Linked DNA regions of Homo sapiens. The protein of the gene in region 1 interacts with the protein of each later gene in a pairwise test. Each region holds a gene or a part of one and is shown in the gene's direction. Other genes may lie near its edges. The genes, in order: SCARA3 and SYNGR2.

Evidence for each region.
Region 2: the proteins of SCARA3 (region 1) and SYNGR2 interact in binary tests that used the Homo sapiens proteins (3 or more experiments, as listed by UniProt).

Annotation. Positions count from the first base shown.
Region 1 is NC_000008.11:27,648,711-27,661,053, forward strand, and holds part of SCARA3 (scavenger receptor class A member 3), read left to right. Parts: intron 1-991; coding exon 992-1,090; intron 1,091-2,797; coding exon 2,798-2,917; intron 2,918-8,071; coding exon 8,072-8,170; intron 8,171-9,785; coding exon 9,786-10,829; intron 10,830-12,343. UniProt on the Homo sapiens protein: Seems to protect cells by scavenging oxidative molecules or harmful products of oxidation.
Region 2 is NC_000017.11:78,158,965-78,171,580, forward strand, and holds the start of SYNGR2 (synaptogyrin-2), read left to right. Parts: upstream 1-9,616; 5' UTR 9,617-9,652; coding exon 9,653-9,751; intron 9,752-11,852; coding exon 11,853-12,090; intron 12,091-12,545; coding exon 12,546-12,616. Other genes in the region: C17orf99 (protein IL-40), read left to right, coding at 1,991-2,290, 5,131-5,702. UniProt on the Homo sapiens protein: May play a role in regulated exocytosis. In neuronal cells, modulates the localization of synaptophysin/SYP into synaptic-like microvesicles and may therefore play a role in the formation and/or the maturation of this vesicles.

The DNA of each region.
Region 1 (12,343 bases):
CATACTGCTAAGTGCATAGCTAAAGGTGAAAGAAAGCAGGGAATCCTTAAGGACCCAACAAAACGGCAAAGAAAGAGATAAAGAGAGAGGGAGAGGGAGGAGAGAGAAAGAGAGAAAGGAGGGAGGGAGGGAGAGAGAAGGAAAGGAGGGAGGAAAGTAGGGAAGGAAGGAAAGGAAGGAAGGAATGAAGGAAAGGAAAGGAAAGGAGAAAGGGAAGGAAAGAGGTAAGGAAAGGAGGGAGGAAAGTAGGGAAGGAAGGATGGAAGGAAGGAGAAAGGGAAGAAAAGGCCAGGTCTTACTTACAGGGAGTGGGAGGTGAAGGGTGTCTGGGGAACTAGAGGAATCTTCTGAGTGAGGGATACATCATCTAGGTTTTAGTTAGGGACCATATTGTCCCAGAGAATAAGCACCGAATCAAACTCTGAAAGGAGACCTGCTCCGCCCAAGGCCCTTTGACACCCTGATGGGTCCTAGGTGAGATTGTGTGAAGCAGGGATCTGCGCCCATCCTGTCATCTCCTCCTCCCTCTGGCCTCCTCCTGGCTATGCTGGAGGCAGAGTCTTGGTGGGGACTATGCTGTGGCCAGATTCAGCCTTGTCCCTGGAGAAGAGGAATTCTGCTTCGGTGACCAAGTATTGGGGAATAGAAGGACGCTAAGCCAGAGCAAGCAGCCAGCTCTTATTTCTCCTTACTCCACCTTCATGGGTTTCAGCAAGCTCCAGAGAGAGCAGGCACTGAGGTGGCCCATGTGTCTTTCCCAGCGTGTGGAAAATGGGGAGCTCTCCTCACCCAGAGGGGTGGGACATCCCAGCTCCTCAGCCACTTGATTCTTATGTCCGCTCCCTTTTTGCAGCTTACATCAGGCCACCTGGAGCTCAGTGAGCTGGCTCAGGGGTAGAGGTGGGCATGGGATATGGGGACAGGTAAATAAAAGGGGCTGCTGGAGAGGCCTGGGATGGCTTTGGGTCTGACGGCACTGGCTTCATTATAGTGAGGTCGGCCGGCGGCGATGGAGATGCCTTGTGCGTTACAGAAGAGGACCTGGCGGGTGACGACGAGGACATGCCGACCTTCCCATGCACCCAGAAGGGTAAGGACTCTGGGGCTGCCCCTGATCTCCGCTCTGGGCTGAGAGATCCCTGTCTCCATCCCCAGGCCAGTGAGAGATTTGTCTCTTTAGGTGGTTTCAAAAGCCTGGGTGTCCTTTCCCCACTGCTTCCTGGATGGTGAAAGGGCAGAGTTCACGGCCCTGGGCGTGCAGTACCAGTGAAGTCAAAGGAGTTTAATGTTTTTTTTTCTTAAAGACATGGTTTTGCTGTGTCGTCCAGGCTAGTATGAGTGGTGCAACCACAGATCACTGCAGCCTCAAATTCCTGGGCTCGAGTGATCCTTCCACCTCAGCTTCCCAAGTAGCTGTGACTGTTGGCACGCACCACCATGCCTGGATAATTTTTTTTATTTTTTGTAGATACAAGAGTCTTGCTATGTTGCCCAGGCTGGTCTCAAACTCCTGGCCTCAAGTGATCTGCCCGCCTCAGCCTCCCAAATTGCTGGGGTTACAGGTGTGAGCCACTGTGCTTGGCCTGAAATCAAAGCTTGACACAAGTGCCACCTGTCTCCTGGGGTCCTCCCGAGACCCATCAGGGACTTCTGCCATCTCCCAGAGCTACATACCCTGTCCCTGGGGCCTGTCTTCTAGCTGGCCTGGAACTGTCCCCTTCATTGTGTCCCATGCCACCTGAACTGCTGTTTGGAATGGGGTCTCAGTGACTTTGGTGTAGAGTAGAGCAGTTGTTCTCAACCTTGGCTCTTCATTGCAATCACCCATGGATGCATGAGACCAACCCTTGGAAATTCCTATTTGGCCTGGAGTGTGATCTGGGCATCAGGATTTTTAAACGTCCTAGTAGTCAGAATGTGTGGCTAAAGGTGAGTTCACCTTAGGAATTCGCAGCTGGGCCATCACTGCATTCCCACTGGGTGTTGGCCACCTGTCTGTGTATTCAGGACCATCTGGTTCCCTCTTTCCTCCATGCCAACAATTCAACTGGTGGACCATGACTATTTGTTTGGTTTCCAGGAGAACTTCTGGTTCCCTGAAAAGTTTGGGGACTGGTAACCAACATTCTGGTTTGCCAGGGACTGAGGGGATTCCCAGGGTGTGGGGCTTTTCATTTTCTTTTTTCTTTTTTAAAATAGAGATGGGATCTTGCTATGTTGCCTTGGCTGGCCTCAAACTCCTGGGCTCAAGTGATCCCCCTGCCTCAGCCTCCTCAAGTGCTGGGATTACAGGCATGAGCTACTGTACCCGGCAGGCTTTCAGTTTTAAAACCCAGACAATCTTAGCAAACCAGGATGATTGGCACCATGCTGAGGAGCTCCTGTGATGGGAGACTTTCAGTGCTAAAACCCAGAAGATCCTGGGCAAGCCCAGACAAGTTGGTCACTCAGTGGGGCCTCAGGCTGGCTGCTCATCCTGTGGGTCCTCAGTAGGACCAATGGAGAGGGAAGAGGTGTTTCCCCTCCCCATGGGCCGAATGAAGACACCATGGAGAGAGGATGATGGTAGTGCTGGGGGCTGTTCTTTGAAGTCCTGACTCGGTCTCCTGCATTCCAGAAAGCACCAGCACCTAGAGAAAGGAGGTAGGACAGGTAGAGAATGAGGGTCGAGAACAGCTCCCCTTCTGAGCCTGGTTTGAATGTGATGAGACAGACCAGAGCAGGAACATGGAACTGACCCTTCAGCTCCAACCTGGGCCCCTGGCCTAAGCCATTGTCCTCCTTGTGTCCCCCACAGGCCGGCCAGGGCCCCGCTGCAGCCGCTGCCAGAAGAACCTATCTTTGCACACATCGGTGCGGATTCTTTACCTCTTCCTGGCCCTGCTCCTGGTGGCCGTGGCTGTGTTGGCCTCTCTGGGTGAGTCCGGGGCTTTCCCACCCCGGGCTGCAGGGGGGTGTCTGATCAGGGATCCAGCACCAAAAGTTCCCCTGCAAAGACAAACACTTGACATCTGTATCCCAGGGCCCAGAGCCAGCATCTTCCTGGCTAGGGGATCTCTATGCCTAATGCAAACTGCAGACACTGGCAACTGACAAGATCTGTGGCCTTAAGGAAGGCACCTGCCTCTGGGGACCCCTTCTTTCCCATTGGTGTAATGAGATGATACGACCAGGTCAGTGCTTCTCAGTTTCAGCTCCATGTTACAGCCATCTTGGAGCTTTAAAGAATGTCGATGTCTAGGCCCCACCCCGATCGTGGAATTAATTCGGTATCTTTCAACTCTCCTGATGATTCTGTTGTTCACCCAGGGTTGAGATCACTGGATTGAGTGACTTCTAAGCCCCCTTTTATGGTCTGTGTGTTTCTAAAAGTGAGGCTGGATGCCTACCTGCAGCAATTTCACCTCCAGTATTTGTTAAAATGCAAATTCCTGGGTCTCCCTCAGCCAGACCTGCTGAGACCAAGGAATCTGGGGGGTCCTGCAGGTGAGACCCAGGGATCTGAGGTTTGGTTCTTCTCATACACATTAGGGTTTGTAGTAGTTGACCTAGGTCACAGCACACAGCCAGAGGCAAGTCACTTCTGCCTTCCAGATGCTGACAGATTGTGGTAAACTTGTTACAACAAATTTGATGTTTGTAATCCCATTCCACTAAGAGTGCTAAGAGTGCAATCCCATTCCACTCTTAGCTTCAAACTTTGAAAATCCGGGCTCTGGTAGGCTTGTTTGTTCCAATCTACTGGATTTTAGAAACAAGGCCAGGAGTAGGGAGAGGCAGTCGAGGCTCCGAGGGGGGCCCCCTGCTCTCATGCAGACCCTGAGCCTGAGCACATCCCTAAGGAGAGGCCCCTCGTCCTGGCCCTGGCTGGAGATATTCGGTAACCAGCCTTCTTAGCTTGAAGGCAAGAGGCCAGCATACTAATGATTTGAATAGACACAAGTCGTCTTCCAGTAATCCGAAGGCATTAATTAATCCAACAAAAGCCGGGAGCCTGCTCTGTGCCAGGCACTGGGAACACTGAGTTGTGTCAATTACATTTCACCATCAAGGGGCATGGTTCTTCCCTCTTGTCAGGGGATACTGGAATCCCTTGGAAAGCATTTAAAAATACTAGTGCCAGAGTACCCCCTCCACTCACTCCAGATGAATTAAATCATCATCTCTGGGTAGGACCCAGGCCTTAGTCATTTGTAAATCCCTTCAGGGGATTCCAGTCCGCAGCTAGATTTAAGAACCAAGGATTTCAGAACTTCCCAAGCCCATCACCACCTGTGTCTGCTAAATCAATTCACAAGGTTTGGCATTTCAGAAAGTGGCAAAAATCCCAGGCCAGAGGAGGAAAGGAGCCACGGTCTGCCTATCAGAGGCCACAAACTTGCTGTCAGAGAACTTGTCAAGATTTCTGGTCACCCCTTTTAGGGCCTCTGCTCACAGCACTCAAGGCACCTGGGGCCATTATCAAAGCTCCAAGAGCCACAGGATCAGGCCCAGAGAAGAGCGCAGGCACCGAAGAGTTTCAGAGAGGATGACAGAATGTGAGACGCTGTCATGTGCATAACATCCATGAGTCAGCCTGGCAGGCTGGAGCGGGAGGCTGGCCCCATTCCTCACGGGAGGGTACAGACCTGGGAAGGGGACAGGATTTGCACCAAGATCCAGAGTGAATGGACAGAGGATCAGAACAACCTGGGTGAGGAGTGTGTGTTTGTGAACCACGGGAGACCTTTGGGTTTCCTTTTTTGTTTTTGCCTCCAGCTTGGGTATCCCAAGTCCCTAGAACAGTGTTGGCACCATCTTGGCCTAAATGGCAGGTGCCCAATAATATTTGTTGAAAGAATGATTATAGATTTGTAAAGCGTGTGTGTGTGTGTGTGTGTGTGTGTGTGTATGGTGTATGTGTGAGTCTGTGGATAGACTGGTCAATGCTTTACAACCAGAACTGTGACCAAAGTCCAGAGGGTTGGGAAAATCAGTCAGCAGACATTACAAACCAACTCTATTCATTTTAATCAAGTTTTTTTTTCTAAATCAAGAGCATACTGGGGACCAAGAACTATATTCTATACTGGGCAGTATACTGCTTAGTAAAACACAGACCCTGCCTTCATGGAGCTTATAATCTAGAGCTGATTATGGCCATTTTTTTCTGTAAAAGGCTACATAGTAAATATTTTAGGCTTTTCAGGTTACATACAATCTTTGTCACAACCAAACTCGTCACAGAGCAAAAGCAGCCACAAGCAGTCTGTAAATGAATGGGGGTGGCAACTCCTGTAAATCAGGCATTAGGCTGGATTTCACCTGCAGGCCATAATTTGCAACACCCCTGGTCTAGAGCAGTGATCCCTAAACTTTTTTGACCGTGCATCCCATCAGTAAAAAATTCATTTAAAATGCATTCAAAAATTTACATGGATTGATGAATGGGTGAAAGAGATGGATGAATATAAAATAAATACAGAAAAATGCTACTTGTAGAATCTAGGCAATAGGCATATAGGTCTTCACTGTACAAGTCCTTCTATTCTTTTGTTTGAAAAATTTTTAAATTAAATGTTAGAAAAGAAAAAATTGTTAGCGTCACAGCCCCAAAATATACCTATTTATTTATAAGTGATGTATATGTACTATTTGCCATATTGTCTACATAAAACATAATTTTATAAGGATGAAGAAAAATCATGTCTAAAAAGTGAGGAAAAATGGCTTAAAAAGCAAATATATAATTATTAAGCCTGAGATGCACAATGAAGAAATAAGCAAGGCCAGGTGCAGTGGCTCATGTCTGTAACCCCAACACCTTGGGAGGCCAAGGTGGAAGGATCACTTGAGCTCAGGAGTTTGAGGCCAGCCTGGGAAACATAGTGAGACCCCAACTCATTTCAATTAAAAAAAAAATTGAAAATTAACTGGGCATGGTGGCACATGCCAGTAGTCCTGGCGGCACATGCCAGTAGTCCTGGCTACTTACGAGGCTGAAGTGGGATGATCACTTGAGCCCAGAAGATTGAGGCTGCAGTGAACCATGATCACACTGCTGCACTCCAGCCTGGGTGACAGAGCAAGACTGTCTCACAAAAAAAAAAAAAGAAAAAGAAAAAAAGAAAAAAGAAATGAACAGGTGAATGAATTATATGGAGTGGAGTGAGCCTCGGCTGTTGGCTTGGAAGTAGAATTAATGAAGCATAGGAATAGGAATCAAAGTCACTCAGTCTCTTTGTGTCTTTGTTCATCTATGCATGAAATCTTAATTGTAGGGAGGCTCAAATGGAATCATAACTATTGTAAACTGTACAGTGCTTGTCTCATGTAACAGCATGTGCTTATTCCCAAACTCTCTCAACATGTTGCTGTTACTAATTAAGTAAATCTACTGACAGCTCTGAGATGTACAATATTAACTGGAGCCTGGAGATTCCAAATAATTTGAAAGCATAGAATTTTGGTGCTGATGAGAGCCTTAGAGTCATCGAGCTCCACATTTTCATTTTACATATGATTGAACTGAGCTCAAGAAAGGGTAACTGACTTGCCCAAAGTCACCCAACAAATGTGATGTAAACTAGGACTAGAAGCTGTGTTACTCAGTGCTCTTGGTGGTGCTAATTCTTTCCCCTTGTACTTGACCTTAAGAGGATCTGTGGGAAGCATCTTGCTGAACCTCAGAACAACCCATGCCCTCCCTCACTACCAGGCCCATTCAGGCACCCGCTGGAAAAAGCCAGGCGTCCTGCTGCTGCCAAGACGTGCTCTAACCACTGGCCAACATGGCCCCCTTAGTAGAGTGCAAGGCTGCCCGTGGGGTATAAAGTGGTGTAATCTTTTCTGGGCAGCAGTTTGGCAGCTTGTATCAAGGACTTCAAAAATGTTAATACCCTAGGTCCCATAATTCTATTTTAAGCAATTTATCCCAAGAGAATTATCATATACACATAACCATCATATATAAGGATTATTTCTAGAATTAAGCATTACTTATATTTATATATCAAGTTTTATTTATGAGCTCAGAAGAAGAGGTACTTTAAGTGTCCTCAACAGTAGGAGATTCTTACATAATTGCTGTATTATTTATATAGAGTGCCATGCAGATACCAAAAGTAGTGATTTTAAAGTGATTTAACCCTGGATGGAAAAATGTCCGTGACATGATACTGATAAAGCAGCATCAAAGAAAACAGATGAGATGTTCAGAACATCCCAGTTTTGCTTTTGTTGCCTAAGAAAGTACAGTAGTCCCCGTTTATCCGCAGTTTCAGTTACCCTAGGTCAATCGGCAACATCATGGCTTGATGATCCCCCTTCTGACATATGGTCAAGGTCAGTAGTAGCCCAATACTAAGTCACAATGCCTATGTCATTCACCCCACTGCATCTCGTCACGTAGGCATGGTGTCATCTCATGTCAGCACAAGAAGAAGGATGAGTATGGTACAATAAGATATTCTCAGATACAAAGAGACCATATTTACATAACTTTTATTATAGCATACTGTTCTAATAGTTCTATTTTATTATTAGCTGTTGTTAGTCTCTTACTAGGCCTAATTTATACATTAAACTTTATCTTAAGTACGTATGTATAGGAAAACACATAGCATATTTAGGGTTCCATACACTGAGGTTTCAGGCATCCACTGGGGGTCTTGGAATGTATCCCCTGCAGGTAAGAGGGGAACACTGTATATATCTATGTAGCTGAAGAATGGTTATCAATGTAGACAAGACTAGAAGAAATCCATGAAGACACTGATGGCAGCAACCTTTGGGTGGTAGGAATAAGAATAATTTTTTTTTAATTTTTTTTCTGAATTTTCCCTGTTCCATTCTGTGATCAGGTCCTATTTCTAACATGTGGGGTGTGGGGTGAGTTATTCTGTTTCTAAAGGGCCTTGTGGCAAACTCTGGCCATAAGAAGTATCTTCCCTAACCGCCATGAAGAAGCCTGAGAGAAGAAGGGTGAAAGGTTTTGGTTGCAGAGGAGCTGATAAAGATGCCTTCTCAAGGAATGACTGCTGTTTCTCTGAGCTTAGACCCTGCCCCAGCTTCTCATCTGTTTTCCCTACAGTTTTCAGAAAAGTGGACTCTCTCTCCGAAGACATCTCCTTGACCCAGTCTATTTATGACAAGAAGCTTGTGTTAATGCAGAAAAATCTCCAGGGCCTGGGTAAGTAGATGGGCTGATGACTGTGATGCAGTGATCTTCAGGGTGGGGCAGGGGTGCCCTCCCCACGCTACAGTGCCCCAGCACCAAGCAACCTTCACCAGCCTTCTAGGCACAGAGGCTATCCCCAGCTCCCTGCTCCCTCCCCAGCCGGATCTCCATCCATTAGAGGAGGGCTGCTACCCTGGGATACTCCCAGGACTGGAGCAGGGGATTCTGGGTGGACCACAGATCTAGCCAGAGTCTACAGGCAGAGAAGGAAGCCAAAGATAGTCCATTCCCAAAATAGCCTCATGCATCTGAAATGATGAGAGTTTCAAGACCTTGCAAAACCTCCTGCCAGGTCAACCCTTTCCTCATCATTGCCTTAAGCTGTGCCACGATTCTTTTCTTTTTTCTTTTTTTTTAATATGTGCCATCTATTTATCTATTTCCATAATTTTAACTTTTGTTGTTATAGATTAAGGGACACATGTGCAGGTTTGTTACTTGGTTATATTGCGTGACACTGAGGTTTGGGGGGGTAGAAATGATCCTGTCACCCAGGTAGTGAGCCCAGGTACCCAATAGGTGGTTTTTCAGCCCATAACCCCCTCCCTCCTCTCCCATCTAGTATGCACTGAAGTCTATTGTTGCCATCTTTATGTCTACATGTATTCAACCTTTTTTTTTTTTTTTTTTGAGACGGAGTCTCACTCTGTCACCCAGGCTGGAGTGCAGTGGTGTGATCTCGGCTCACTGCAAGCTCCACCTCCTGGGTTCGTGCCATTCTCCTGCCTCAGCCTCCCAAGTATCTGGGACTACAGGCGGCAGCCAGCATGCCCGGCTAATTTTTTGTATTTTTAGTAGAGATGGGGTTTCACTGTGTTAGCCAGGATGGTCTCGATCTCCTGACCTCGTGATCCGCCCGCCTCTGCCTCCCAAAGTGCTGGGATTACAGGCGTGAGCCACTGCACCCAGCATCTACATGTATTCAGTCTTGCTCCCACTTATAAGTGAGAGCATGTGGTCTTTGGTTTTCTGTTCTTCTGTTAATTTGCTTAGGTCATGCCACAATTCTTGATGTTCTTTATCCCCTGCTTTAACCTGGAACAATCTAAGAGAGAATGAGACAGAAGGAGCAATGATAGAAGGGTTTAGAGTGGTCTTATCTGACGCAAATAGAAGGTTCTGGTCTGGCACCAATATACGTGGCTATTTACCAAGCCACTTCTCTGCACCTCGTTCCTCTTGATTGTATTGAATGTATTATTTTGAGAGGATTGAATAAGATAACAGATATAAAAATACTGGGAGAAATTTTTAAATAAAGTTTAAATGGGAAGTTCCTGGCCACCTAAGAAAAATTATGAAGATACATTCTTGAGAATTTGGTGGTGAGAAGGAGGAAACATCCTAAATGCTACATTTCAGATCAGAGTCAAGAAAGTCGGTAAAAATGAGATTCCATAGAGGTGGCAAGGCTTTTTCAAGAAGGAATTCATAACAGGACTTCTGGAAGGAAGTTGGTTTGGGAAGCTACTAACCAATTTCTTATGCTCTGAAATATTTAATTTAAAGAGGAAGCGTCGTACCCTGGCCCTTCAGCAACTCAAACTGTTATCCCTTTCCCCTAAAGATCCGAAAGCCCTGAACAACTGCTCTTTCTGCCATGAAGCTGGGCAGCTGGGGCCAGAGATCCGAAAACTGCAGGAGGAGCTGGAGGGAATTCAGAAGCTGCTTCTGGCCCAGGAGGTGCAGCTGGACCAGACCTTACAGGCCCAGGAGGTGCTCTCCACCACCAGCAGACAAATCTCCCAGGAGATGGGCAGTTGCTCCTTCTCCATCCACCAGGTTAACCAGTCTCTGGGGCTCTTCCTGGCCCAGGTGAGAGGCTGGCAGGCCACCACAGCTGGCCTGGACCTCTCTCTGAAGGACCTCACCCAGGAGTGCTACGATGTCAAGGCTGCAGTGCACCAGATCAACTTCACCGTGGGGCAGACTTCCGAGTGGATCCACGGGATCCAGCGGAAGACAGACGAGGAGACCCTGACCCTCCAGAAGATTGTCACCGACTGGCAGAACTACACACGGCTCTTCAGCGGCCTGCGCACCACCTCCACCAAGACTGGAGAGGCGGTCAAGAACATCCAGGCCACCCTGGGGGCCTCCTCACAGCGCATCAGCCAGAACTCAGAGAGCATGCACGACCTGGTACTCCAGGTCATGGGCTTGCAGCTGCAGCTGGATAACATCTCGTCCTTCCTGGATGACCACGAAGAGAACATGCATGATCTTCAGTACCATACCCACTACGCCCAGAACCGCACTGTGGAGAGGTTTGAGTCTCTGGAAGGACGCATGGCTTCTCACGAGATTGAAATTGGCACCATCTTCACCAACATCAATGCCACCGACAACCACGTGCACAGCATGCTCAAGTACCTGGATGACGTGCGGCTCTCCTGCACGCTGGGCTTCCACACCCATGCCGAGGAGCTCTACTACCTGAACAAGTCTGTCTCCATCATGCTGGGCACCACAGACCTGCTCCGGGAGCGCTTCAGCCTGCTCAGTGCCCGGCTGGACCTCAACGTCCGGAACCTCTCCATGATCGTGGAGGAGATGAAGGCAGTGGACACACAGCATGGAGAAATCCTTCGCAATGTCACCATCCTACGAGGTAAGAGCTGGGTCCAGGTAGGGCTGCTACAAAGCTTCCACTGAGGCTTGGTGATCTTGCTGGACACAGAAGTACCTGGTTTTAGGCAAAGTACTAGTGGGCTAACACAATCCTATAGCAAATGCCTACAGCAGTCGGCAGCTTTAAGAAATGTCCTTGCATTAGCCAGGCATGGTGGTGTGTACCTATACTCCTAGCTGCTTGGGAAGCTGAGGCAGAAGGATCACTTGAGCCCAGGAGTTCGAGGCTACAGTGAGCTATGATTGCACCACTGCACTGCAGCCTGGGAGACAGAGTAAGTCCTTATCTAAAAAAAAAAAAAAAAAAAAAAAAAAAAAGAGAGAGAGAGAGAAAAGAAAAAAGGAAAAGAACATCCTTGCAAACCTCTTTTGTAAAGGTATTATGGCTTCTAACTTTGCCTATTATACAAATCTGGATTTTTGTATTTAGATTTATTTAACCAAGTCCTAATAGAGAAATAAGCAGATCTTGTCTTTTGAAAACTGTCTCCTCTTTTTTACTCCCTTCCCACCCCCTCATTAATGCTCCCAACCACCCAACCCTCTGCCCCTGGAGGCTGTCACTCTGAAAAACTCTTCTCCTCTCATCCCCCTCATGTCTTCCTTATTTATCAGGGTTCTCCAGAGAAACAGAATCAATAGTGTATGAGAGAGAGAGAGAGACAGAGAGATCCACAGAAACAGAATCAATAGTGTATGACAGAGAGAGATCCACAGAAATAGAATCAATAGTGTATATATATATAGAGAGATAGACCCAGAGAAACAGAATCAATAGTGTATAGAGATGATAGATAGATAGGTAGATAGATCCAGAGAAACAGAATAAATAGTGTATAGATAGATGGATATATAGATGATTGATTGATTGATTGATCCAGAGAAACAGAATCAATAGTGTATAGAGATAGATGATAGGGATGATAGAAATGGATAGATAGATAGATAGGATAGAGATAAAGAGATAGAGATGAGATAGATAGATAGATAGATAGATAGATAATAGATAGATAGATGATAGATAGATCCAGAGAAGCAATCAATAGCATAGAGATAGATGATAGATAGATAGATAGATAGATAGATAGATAGATAGATCTAGAGAAACAGAATCAATAGTGTAGAGTGATAGATGATAGATAGATAGATAGATAGATAGATAGATAGATAGATAGATCCAGAGAAACAGAATCAATAATGGAGAGAGAGAGAGGTGATAGAAACAGAGATGATAGGGATGAGATAGATAGAAAATAGATATAGATAGAAGATAGCTAGCTAGCTAGATAGATAGATAGATAGATAGATAGATAGATAGATAGATAATGATAGAGATAGATGGATAGATGGATATTATAAGGAATTGGCTCCTGTAATTAGAAAGGCTGGCAAGTCCAAAATCCGCAGAGCTGATATCCCAGTTTGAAGACCATCAGGCAGGAAGAATTCCCTCTTACTTGGGGGAGGCTCAGCTCTTTTTTCCATTCAGGCCTT
Region 2 (12,616 bases), on another chromosome or scaffold:
TCCCCAAACCCCTTCAGATGGGGAGGGAAGAGGAGGAGAGGGGAGGGGACCTGCCCCCTCCTCAGGCATCTGGGAGAGCCCTGCCCCCACGGGCTTTACCCTTCCCTGCAGGCTCTCTCCCCGACACATTTGTTAAAATCAAACCTGAATAAAACTACAAGTTTAATATGATTTAAAAAAAAAAGGAAAAGAAAAAACCCCGTCTCTACTAAAAATACAAAAATTAGCTGGGCATGGTGGTGCATGCCTGGAGTCCCCACTACATGGTAGGCTGAGACAGGAGAATCGCTTGAACCCAGGAGGTGGAGGTTGCAGTGAGCTGAGATCGTGCTACTGCACTCCATTCTGGACGACAGAGCAAGACTCTGTCTTTAAATAAATAAATAAAAGTGGGCCGGGCGCAGTGGCTCACATCTGTAATCCCAGCACTTTGGGAGGCTGAGGTGGCCAGACCACCTGAGGTCTCGAGTTCAAGACCAGTCTGGCCAACATGATGAAACCCCATGTCTACTAAAAATACAAAAATTAGCCAGGCGTAGTGGTGGGTGCCTGTAATCCCAGCTACTCTGGAGGCTGAGGCACGAGAATCTCTTGAACACGGGAGGCGACAGTGCAAGACTCTGTCTCAAAAAAAAAAAAAAGTGATAATTCAGCAGCATTTAGTGCATCCATAGTGTTGCTCAACCACCACCGCTATCTAGTTCCGAGAGATTTTCATCACCCCAAAAGGAAACCCCGTATCTATTAGGCAGTTACTCCCCATTTCCCCCTCCCCTGGGCCCCAGTAACCACCAATCTGCTTTCTGTCTCTGTGGGTTCTCCTGTTCTGAACTTTGCACACACATGGAATCATGCAACCGTTGCCCTTTGCGTCTGCCTTTTTGTTTAGTGGAATGTTGTTACGGCTCATCCCTGTTGCAGCCTGCATCTGTGCTCATTTCTTTCTAAGGCTGAGTAATATTCCTTATATGGATCAACCACATTCTATTTACCCATTCGTCCATTGATAGATATTTGGGCCGTTTCCACCATTTGGCTGTGGTGAATCACGCTGCCATGAGCGTGTGTGTACAGGTATCTGTTTGAGTCCCTGTTTTCTATTATTTGGTGTATGTCTAGGCCTGGAATTGTTGAGTCATATGGTAAGTCTGTTTAACTTTTTGAGGAACCACTAAATCAGTATTTTCTTTCTTTCTTTTTTCTTTACTCTGAGGTCTACTGGTTTCACTTATTTATTTGTAATTTTTAGGTTCAGGGGTACATGTGCAGGTTTGTTATAGAAGTAAATTGCAGCCGGGCGCGGTGGCTCACGCCTGTAATCCCAGCACTTTGGGAGGCCAAGGCGGGTGGATCACGAGGTCAGGAGTTTGAGACCAGCCTGACCAACATGGTGAAACCCTGTCTCTACTAAAAATACAAAAATTAGCCAGGCGTGGTGGCACGCGCCTGCAGTCCCAGCTATTCGGGAGGCTGAAGCAGGAGAATCACTTGAACTCAGGAGGCGAAGGTTGTGGTGAGCAGAGATCGCGCCACTGCACTCCAGCCTGGGTGACAGAGCAAGACTCCATCTAAAAAAAAAAAAAAGAGAGAGAGAGAGAGAACATGCTAAACCCAGCATCCTTTTTCTTTTTTTCCTGAGTCTCCCTCTGTCGCCCAGGCTGGAGTGCAGTGGTGTGATCTCGGCTCACTGCCACCTGCCACCTCCGCCTTCCTGGTTCAAGAGATTCTCCTGCCTTAGCTTCCCGAGTAGCAGGGATTACAGGTGGGCACCACCACGCCCGGCTAATTTTTGTATTTTAGTAGAGACAGACTTTCACCATGTTGGCTACACTGGTTTTGAACTCCTGACCTCAAGTGATCCGTCCACCTGGACCTCCCAAACACTGGGATTACAGGTGTTTGCCACCGAGCCTGGCCAAACCAGTACCTTCTTAAGGTGCTTGATCAATGTCGGTTTCTTTCTTCCTCCTTGGACCTTTTCATCTCCCAGAAATTACCCCTGTGGTCTCCATTGCCTACAAAGTCCTGGAAGTTTTCCCCAAAGGCCGCTGGGTGCTCATAACCTGCTGTGCACCCCAGCCACCACCGCCCATCACCTATTCCCTCTGTGGAACCAAGAACATCAAGGTGGCCAAGAAGGTGGTGAAGACCCACGAGCCGGCCTCCTTCAACCTCAACGTCACACTCAAGTCCAGTCCAGACCTGCTCACCTACTTCTGCTGGGCGTCCTCCACCTCAGGTGCCCATGTGGACAGTGCCAGGCTACAGATGCACTGGGAGCTGTGGTCCAGTGAGTGCGGTGGGGGGCACAGGGCTGAGGAGGCAGGTGGGGTGCAGATCAATGGGGAGCTCTGGGAGTGGGGATTGTGAACCTTGCTGGGGTTAGAGAGAGCCAGGGTGTGAGGGTGTGGACAAGGACAGGCTGCCACCTCCAAGGCCATTCTCAGTCCCTTGGGGCCTTTAATCAGGACTTGCTGTCCCTGGCTGGGGCCCTGAGGGCACAGTCTCCTGGCAGGGGCCTGAGGGCACAGAGGGAAAGAGCCCGATGGTGGCAGAAATGACTGGGCCCCAGTTGTCAGCTCGGACCTCAAGGTGATAAACTAGGCACGTTTGTCTGGGCGCAAATCCCAGCACTGTGGGAGGCCGAGACAGGCTGATCGCTTGAGCCCAGGAGTTCGATACCAGCCTGGGCAACATGGCGAAACCCTGTTCCTACTAAAATTACAAAGATTAGCTGGGCGTGGCGGGGTGCACCTGTAGTTCCAGCTACTCAGGAGGCTGAGGCAGGAGAATCGCTTGAACCCGGGAGGCAGAGGTTGCAGTGAGCCAAGATTGCGCCACTGTACTCCAGCCTGGGTAACAGAGCGTCTCCAAAAAAAAAAAAAAGAAAAAGAAACGAAAAAAAAGTTAGGCACGTTTTGTGCATTACTTCGCTTGATCTTCACAGCAGTGTCAGGGGTGGGGTCTGAGCCTCTGGGTCTATAGCTATGTAAGCTAAAACTCTGGGGAGTTAAGAAAGTTGCCCCAGGGGCTGGGTGTGGTGGCTCACGCCTATAAGCCCAGCATTTTGGGAGGCCCAGGCGGGAGGATCACTTGAGCTCAGGAGTTTGAGACCAGTCTGGCCAACGTAGTGAAACCCCATCTCTACTAAAAATACAAAAATTAGCTGGGTGTGGTGGTGGGCACCTATAATCCCAGCTACTGGGGAGGCTGAGGCAAGAGAGTCACTTGAACCCAGGAGATGAAGGTTGCAGTGAGCCAAGGTCGTGCTGCTGCATGCCAGCCTGGGTGACAGCGTAAGACTATCTCAAAAAAAAAAAAAAAAAAAAGTCGCCCCAGGCCACATGGCTGGCAAGTGGCCAAGGCTGCTTTCAAACCCCACTCTGTCCAGCTCCAAACCCTGCCTTCTTCCTGTTTCCATCCTGATAGTAACTCAGGTAACCTTCTTGGTGGGAGCTATGGGGTATGGGAACCAGGAAGTGTTGCCCGACTTAGGGTGGGACAAGGAATCGCCCCATTCATCCTTTGGCCCGCACCCTAAGAACACCAGGAAAAGACAGCCTAGGGGAGATGAGCCCAGGATCTGCAGCCCAACGGGTCCAAGGTTCAAATCCCTACACTTACTGGCTGGGGTCTTGAACAACTCATTGGACCGCTGAGCTTCAACTGCTTTATCTGCAAAAGGAAAATAATAACAGAGGCCAGTGAGGTGGCTCACACCTGTATTCCCAGCATTTTGGGAGGCCAAGGTGGGAGAATCCTTTGAAGCCAAGAGTTTGAGACCAGCCTGGACCACAGAGTGATACTCTGTGTCTGCAAAAAAATTATTTTCTTTTTTTGAGATGGAGTCTTGCTCTGTCGCCCAGGCTGAACTGCAGTGGCACGATCTCGGCTCACCGCAACCTCCGCCTCCCAGATTCAAGCGATTCTCCTGCCTCAGCCTCCCGAGTAGCTGGGACTACAGGCCCTTGCCCCCATGCCGGCTAATTTTTGTATTTTTAGTAGACACGGGGTTTCACCATGTTGGCCAGGCTGGTCTCAAACTCCTGACCTCAAGTGATCCACCTACCTAGGCCTCCTAAAGTGCTGGGATTATAGGCGTGAGCCACTGCACCCAGCCAATAGCAATTTTTTAAAAAATTAATCAGGTATGGTGGTGCATGCCTGTCGTCCCAGCTACTTGGGTGGCTGAGGTGGGAGGATCATTTGAGCCCAGGAGTTGGAGGCTGCAGTGAGCGGTGATCACACCATTGCACTCTAGCCTGGGCAACAGAGACCCTGTCTCTAAAATAATAATAGGTCCTACTTCAGGGGACCTATTAAATGAAAGCCTTTTAGTAGGTGGCAAGTGTGGTGGTGATTACTCATCAGTAAGAATGTCTAGAGCATTAGGCTCAAGGCCTGGGGGATTCTAGAATCTTCTACATGACAGTTTTTGTCCTGAAGTAGCTTGCCTTTCAGTAAAAAAGACGAGACTGAATGATAGAGTTGCCAGATAAATTTTACATAGGACATACGTATAGTAAAAGATTATTCATTGTTTATCTGAAATGAAAATTTAACTGTATTTTTATTTGCTAAGTCTGGCAATCTGAAATACGCTACACAAGAATAAAACCAGGCCGGGCACGGTGGCTCACGCCTAAAATCCCAGCACTTTGGGAGGCTGAGGCAGAAGATTGCTTGAGCCCAGGAGTTTGAGACCAGCCTGGCCAACATGGTGAAACCCCATCTCTGCAAAAAATACAAAAATTAGCTGGATGTGGTGGTGCACACCTGTAGTCCTAGCTACTCGGGAGGCTGAGATGGGAGAATTGCTCGAGCTGGGGAGGCGGAGGTTGCAGTGAGCCTAGATCGCGCCATTGCACTCCAGCCTGGGCGACAGAGCAAGACCCTGTCTCAAAATAAAGTAAGAATAAGATAAAAACCAAATGTGAAATTGTGTGGTACACACGGCAGGTAGGGCAGCAGCCCAGACACAAGGTGGAGGGCAAACTCTAGAAGGCGGCCTGGAGGAGGCGGCAGCCACAGCTAAGCTCATTAGGCATTTTGTAATGAGGAGAACTTACTGAGGAGGAGGGGTTTAAAACCGCTCAGCCATGCCTGTGCTACCTTCTCCCACCCTGCCAGAGCCAGTGTCTGAGCTGCGGGCCAACTTCACTCTGCAGGACAGAGGGGCAGGCCCCAGGGTGGAGATGATCTGCCAGGCGTCCTCGGGCAGCCCACCTATCACCAACAGCCTGATCGGGAAGGATGGGCAGGTCCACCTGCAGCAGAGACCATGCCACAGGCAGCCTGCCAACTTCTCCTTCCTGCCGAGCCAGACATCGGACTGGTTCTGGTGCCAGGCTGCAAACAACGCCAATGTCCAGCACAGCGCCCTCACAGTGGTGCCCCCAGGTGAGAGGGCCCTTGGATTTCCAGAGGGGCAGCTGGCGCTTCTGTGCCGGGAGGGTGCTAGTGTCCAAGACACAGGTCGATGGGAAGTGGGACAGCTCTACCCGGCCACTGCTGAGAGCAGAGAGGGCACAGGAGGCAACCATGCCCACCCTGGCCCCTGCCTAAAGGAAGCCCAACCCAGCTGCCTCCGCCCCCTCCCAGGAGGGTTGCCCAGGGCACCCACCATCGTGCTGGTTGGCAGCCTTGCCTCCACTGCGGCCATCACCTCCAGGATGCTGGGCTGGACCACGTGGGCCAGGTAGGAAATGGGTGCTCGATGCAGGGAGGAGGGAGAGCTGCTGATGGCCTGAGAGGTCCAACCGGGCCCTGGCTGCAGAGCTCAGGTGGTGGGGCTTGCAGGGCAGGGCTGTGGCCAGGGCAAAGAGCGGCCATCACCGCTTACGCATGACTCGAAGGTGTTTATGAGGACCTACTGTGTGCCATGTGCCTACTGAGGCTTACACATTCAAGGCGTTATCGGACCCTGACCAGTGCTCCCAGGTGCCCTGTAACACAGTCTGCTGGCCTCTGGGAGGGCAGTCTCCTAAGTTCTTTATGGGGTCTGAGCAGGGATTGCAGGGATGATGCCTCCAGGAGACCAAGGTGGACCAGGAGCTCCTGCCTTCTGTGAGAACCACCTTGGGCAGTCTTTCCGAGGTGGTGGCAAGAGCCTGGGGCCCAGCCTCCCAGGGTCCCCTCTCCAAGGCCATGGCTTTACTAACATGTAAAGTGACCAAGGCCTTTGTAGTGTCTGAGTGCAGGCACCACAGGCCTGTGTGCTCTGCCTGTCTGGCTTTGGTGGTGGCCAGCCCTGCCTCTGTGAACTCATCTCTCTTTGTTTGGGAGACACTGCCGTGTCCTGGTTCTCATCCTCTGCCCGTGGCCCAGGCCCTTACGTGGCTCTACCAGGAGTCTGTCCTTGGCACTTTCCCATCTCACTTCTACCAAGTCTGTTCTTTCCAGAAGCCAGACTCGTGGGTGAGCCATGTCACCTCGCCGAGCCTCAGTTTTTCCTTCTGTAAAATGGGGTACAGCCTTCATTTAGTGGGGTGAGTAAGCCTCATGTCTCTTCTGCTGGGGCACTGATGTGCTTGGCACCATAAAACTCCCAGAGGCAGGCCGGGCACAGTGGCTCATGCCTGGAATCTCAGCACTTTGGGAGGCTGAGGCAGGCGAATCACCTGAGGTCAGGAGTTCGAGACCAGCCTGGCCAACATGAAGAAACCCCGTCTCTACTAAAAATACAAAATTAGCCGGGCGTGGTGGTGCGCACCTGTAGTCCCAGCTACTCGGGAGACTGAGGCAGGAGAATCACTTGAACCCAGGAGGTGGAGGTTGCAGTGAGCCGAGATCGTGCCATTGCACTCCAGCCTGGACAAAAAGAGCAAAACTCCGTCTCAAAACAAACGAACACTCTCAGACGCCTCGGGAGGGGATGGCTGGGAGGTGAGCCTGCCTGACTTGAGTCTCCACTGCTTTGTCAAGGTGGTGACCAGAAGATGGAGGACTGGCAGGGTCCCCTGGAGAGCCCCATCCTTGCCTTGCCGCTCTACAGGAGCACCCGCCGTCTGAGTGAAGAGGAGTTTGGGGGGTTCAGGATAGGGAATGGGGAGGTCAGAGGACGCAAAGCAGCAGCCATGTAGAATGAACCGTCCAGAGAGCCAAGCACGGCAGAGGACTGCAGGCCATCAGCGTGCACTGTTCGTATTTGGAGTTCATGCAAAATGAGTGTGTTTTAGCTGCTCTTGCCACAAAAAAAAAAAAAAAAAAAAAAGGGTAACTATGAGAGATGGTGGATATGTTAACTTGCTTCGCTATAGGAACCTTTGTGCTATCTATATTATCTATATGAATCCCATCATATCAGGTTGTCTACCTTAAATATACACAAAAACATTTATTTAAAAAAAAGAAAAAAGCCTGCCAGCTGGGATTCTTGGAGTGCTGGTGGCCTTCAGCAAACACAGACACTGTTGGTGTGAGGGCTTCAGGAGGGTCACAGAAATAAGGGGGTCTGTGTGGCCCTGTCCTCGCCTCTCAGGTGCTGTCACATCTCTCTGGGTGTAGGGAGAGGGAGGGGGGCACACTGCGAAAAGGCCCAGCCCCTCCCCCCCACCTGCTCCCCTCTTCCCTGGAGAGGCACCCCACCTCCTGGTGGCCCAGTCCTATGGTTCAACTCTCACGTGGTCCAGCTCACCTGGGTTGACTGTGAGCCCCACCTGGCACACCTGCTGTTGTTAATCTGCACCTGCAACTAGCAAAGGGGGGTCTGGAATTCTTCCGGGTTCAGTCAGCCTGTGATCCCACACCTCTGTCTGTACAACCTCCGCTCCCCACTCCAACACACACAGAGCCTGCCCCAGCCTACCCTGCACCAGACCCTCTGTACCGGTTTTTCTTGGGATGGAGGTAGAGAGGGACGGAGGCGAGAGGGGGCTGAACTGGAACTGGATTAAACTTTGCCATCTGCCTGTCGCCCTGAAAACTTCATTTCTGTTTGCATGCCATATATATATTTTTTTATATGTGGTCTTTTCTTTTTTTTTTTTTTTGAGATGGAGTCTCGCTCTGTCGCAATGGTGCAATCTCGGCTCACTGCAACCTCCGCCTCCCGGGTTCAAGCGATTCTCCTGCCTCAGCCTGCCAAGTAGCTGGGACTACAGGCACGCGCCACCATGCCCAGCTAATTTTTGTATTTTTAGTGGAGACGGGGTTTCACCATGTTGGCCAGGGTGTTCTCGATCTCCTGACCTCGTGATCCGCCTGCTTCAGCCTCCCAAAGTGCTGGAATTACAGGCGTGAGCCACCACGCCCGGCCGATATGTGGTCTTACTCTGTCACCCAGGCTGGGGTGCAAAGGCGTGATCTTGGTTCACTGCAAACTCCGCCTCCTGGGCTCAGACAATTCTCCCACCTCAGCCTCTGGAATAGCTGGGACTGCTAGTAGCTGCCACCACGCCTCGCTAACTTTCGTTTTTGGTTTTGTTTGTTTGTTTGTTTGTTTGTTTGTTTTGTTTGTTTTGAGATGGACTCTTGCTCTGTTGCCCAGGCTGGGGTGTAGTGGCTCGATCTCAGCACACGGCCACCTCTGCCTACCGGTTTCAAGCAATTATCCTGCCTCAGCCTCCCAAGTAGCTGGGATTACAGGCGCTTACCACAACGCCCAGCTAATTTTTTTGTTGTTGTTGTATTTTTAGTAGAGACGGGGTTTCACCATGTTGGCCAGGCTGGTCTCAAACTCCTGACCTCAGGTGATCCAACCGCCTCGGCCTCCCAAAGTGCTGGGATTACAGGTGTGAGCCACTGCGCCCGGCCTTGCACACCATCTTTTTTTTTTTTTTTTTTTTTTTTTTTGACACAGAGTTTTGCTCTTGTTGCCCAGGCTGGAGTGCAATGGCACAATCTCGGCTCACCGCAACCTCCACCTCCCAGGTTCAAGCGATTCTCCTGCCTCAGCCTCCCGAGTAGCTGGGATTACAGGCATGCACCACCACACCAGGCTAATTTTTGTATTTTTAGTAGAGACGGGGTTTCTCCATGTTGGTCAGGCTGGTCTCGAACTCCTGACCTCAGGTGATCCAACCGCCTCGGCCTCCCAAAGTGCTGGGATTACAGGTGTGAGCCACCGCTCCCGGCCTTGCACACCATCTTAAGTGTGACGCCACACTGCCCTTCACAGCCTTGGGGCTCTGCCCAGACCAGGAGGAATGGGGAGGGGGTCTTTGACCCTACCCCAGGCTTAGCCCCAGAGAGGAGGAAAGAGTGGCAGGCCAGGCAGGGAGGGGCTCCAGGGTGTGGCCTGGGTTTTTCAGTGGGATGGGGGAGGGGTTGCTTATGAGCCTGGGTGGGTTCTTGGTAGGTGGTGGGCTTCCTAGAGGAGGCGGTGGGAGGGCAGGGGCAAAGAGGGTGAGCGGTCCTCAGTTCGTCCGTCTTCCCGGGGGACTCTCTGACCCTTTCTGGTCCGTGCTGCGGCCGGCGTGGCCCGGAGACTAGCCCCTCAACCCCGAGGTGGGGTGGACCCGGGTGCTCCGCGGCCACAGCCCCTCCCCGCCTCTAGAAGCGCAGTCCCGCGGCTCGCCCGCCGCTCGCGAGGGCCGCACTTTGCCCTCGGTCCCTAGCGGCGCCTGGCCACGCCCCCGGCGGGTGGAGTCGGGCGGGGCGCCGGGCAGGTTCCTCTGCGTTCCGCGGCGGCGGCAGCGGCGGCGACGGCGACATGGAGAGCGGGGCCTACGGCGCGGCCAAGGCGGGCGGCTCCTTCGACCTGCGGCGCTTCCTGACGCAGCCGCAGGTGGTGGCGCGCGCCGTGTGCTTGGTGAGCCCGGGGAGGGCGGGCCGAGGGCACCCTGGGGACCCCCTCTCCGTCGCCAGGCCCGGCGGGGCCCCTAGCCCACGAGCGCGACAGGTGGCGGCGGCCGCGTCCGGGGCCTGGCGGCGAGCGGGGCCGGCGTCCAGCGTCCCGGGCCCCGCCTTCCCGCCCTCCACAGTCTGTCCCGCTGTCCCCTCCCGGTCCCGGGTCCCGCCACCCACCCCACCCCCAGCCTCGCGCCCCGACGCGGGGTGTCCGGATCTCCGCAGGGAGCGGGCCCCTGCCTCGCTGGCAGTGGGAGGAGTTTGGGGGCGGCTCCCGGACAGGTGGCCCGCACGCCGCGACTCCCAGATTGGGGAGTTCACCGGGACGGGGTTTTCCGAAGCCACGTGGGGTAAGGGAGGGGGCGGGGGGCGACCCAACGCCCGGAAACAGGGTGTCCTTCCCACTCGGGGCAGGCCACGGGTCCGCCTTCCCACCCGAAGTTGAGGGACCCCAAGATGTACCCCCTCCCTGTAAGGTGGGCAATACCTCCAAAACCAGGTTTTGTGTGTGTGTGTGTGTGGCGGGGAGGGGGCCTGTTCTTGGACAGCCAGCCCTGAAAGCTGGAGGGGGTGGCATGAGGGGGCAGGCAGAGGTGGGCCTGCTGTGCCCAGACCATGCCTGGGCCTGGAGCTTCTGAGGTCCTCCAGGGCGCCCACACCAGCTCCCAGCCAGGCTGTGGGATCTGATCGCCTCTGTCCTGGGCTGTGTCCAAGAATCAGGTGCCCAGTGGGTCGGGATGGCAGTGCCAGGAGTCCTGGATGGGCACCCTGCTCCCATCATCCCGGAGATCCGGCTTCATCTCCATCTGGGGGCGGGGCCTGTGACTGCCAGCTCCAGAGCCCTATGGAGAGCTCCCTGGGACAACAGGGCAGGACTGGCAGGGGAGAGTCCTGGGGCCATCCCAGAGGGATCCTGATGCTCACAGACCTGTCCCACACCTGCTGAGGTGGAGCAGGCGTGGGTGGTGGCCTTCAAGTTTAGGGAGGTGGTATGGGGCTCTTCCCAAGGGGCTGGAGCTCCCCTACATCCACCCTGGGTCCTCCAGGTGTCTGAGTTCAGAGCTGTATCCACAGGCCTGAGTTAGTCCCCTTGTAGTGCCCTGTGCATGCAGGGCCCTCTGTGGGGTGGGAGACAGACTGGGAGGGACCAGGATGCCACAGAGGCTGCAAGTCCTTGTGTGGAGACAGCTGGCCAGGCTGAACCAGGGAGGGTTCCAGGGGTTCCAGGAGGTGAAGACACAGGGGCGCCAGCATGGCCTTCCCAAGAGGGCCTGTCCACCTTCACCAAGGTGTTCAGGCAGAGGCTGGGTGCTGTAGAAGTGACTTGGGCTGAAGGTGACGGGGGATGGGTAGTCTTTGTGACTTGGCCTGTCTTGGTTAAACCTCTTTCAAGGTGAGGTTGGGCTGGGGATGGAAGGACTGCCCTTCATCCATCAGGTACCTAAGCAGAATGATTCCTGCAGCAGGCCGATGGGGCAGGAGCAGCCCCTGCCTAGGAGGTCCCTGCCCATTCCCCACCCCTCCCCGGTCCAGGATTCCCAGGGGCAGGCCCCCTGGTGCCTGCAGATTCTCATCCTGGGGTGCATCAGGAAGCACTTTGCTCATCAGCTCACCTCCACAAGTTTGGAGGGGCTAAGATGTCAGCCTCCAAAAGGGGACAGCAGGCTGGGCGAGGTGGCTCATGCCTGTAATCCCAGCACTTTGGGAGGCCGAGGAGGGTGGATCACCTGAGGTCAGGAGTTCCAGACCAGCCTGGCCAACATGGTGAAACCCTATCTCTACTAAAAATACGGGTGTGGTGGAGGGCACCTGTAATCCCAGCTACTAGGGAGGCTGAGGCAGAATTGCTTGAACCCAGGAGGCAGAGGATGCAGTGAGCCGAGATCGCACTATTGCACTCCAGCCTGGGCAACAAGAGCAAGACTCCATCTCAAACAACAACAAAAACCCAAAAGGGGACAGCAGTAGTGGGAGAGGCCAGCATCTGTACACCCCATCAGGGTCCCCGCTGTGTGTGCCCCTCAGGCGGCCACCAGCCCTACCAGGTCCTCCCCTCCCGGCAGGTCTTCGCCTTGATCGTGTTCTCCTGCATCTATGGTGAGGGCTACAGCAATGCCCACGAGTCTAAGCAGATGTACTGCGTGTTCAACCGCAACGAGGATGCCTGCCGCTATGGCAGTGCCATCGGGGTGCTGGCCTTCCTGGCCTCGGCCTTCTTCTTGGTGGTCGACGCGTATTTCCCCCAGATCAGCAACGCCACTGACCGCAAGTACCTGGTCATTGGTGACCTGCTCTTCTCAGGTATCTGCCTGTGGCACCTCCATTTGATCTTGGGGGAGGCATTAACTCTAGGGTTCCGCAGCTGGGAGGGTCTCGGCCTCTCTGGGAGGGGCAGGGAGCAGCTCACTCCTCCAGGGCATTTTTAGGAAAGGGTTTTCAGCTAGTGTTTTTCCGTGCTTGAATGGCACCAGCCCTGCCTGGGGTAGCTAGAAGCTGAGTGGACCTGCAGCACACCCGAGCAGATGGGCTTTGCCTCTGCCCCTTTTGTCCCCTAGGCTGTCTGCTGTGGCCCACCCTGCCAAGGCCCGAGTGTGGGGGACTTTGGAGGTGGCTCCCGGCCCGGCTTCCAAGTCCTCCCCTCCATAGTGTGGAGGCTCCCCCGGGAGGTCCCTGCCCTACCTGCCCGCGTCCCCTCCCAGAGTCCTGGAAAGCCCCTCCCTTTCCATGGAACTGACGCTTCACCCGTCCTCCCCCAGCTCTCTGGACCTTCCTGTGGTTTGTTGGTTTCTGCTTCCTCACCAACCAGTGGGCAGTCACCAACCCGAAG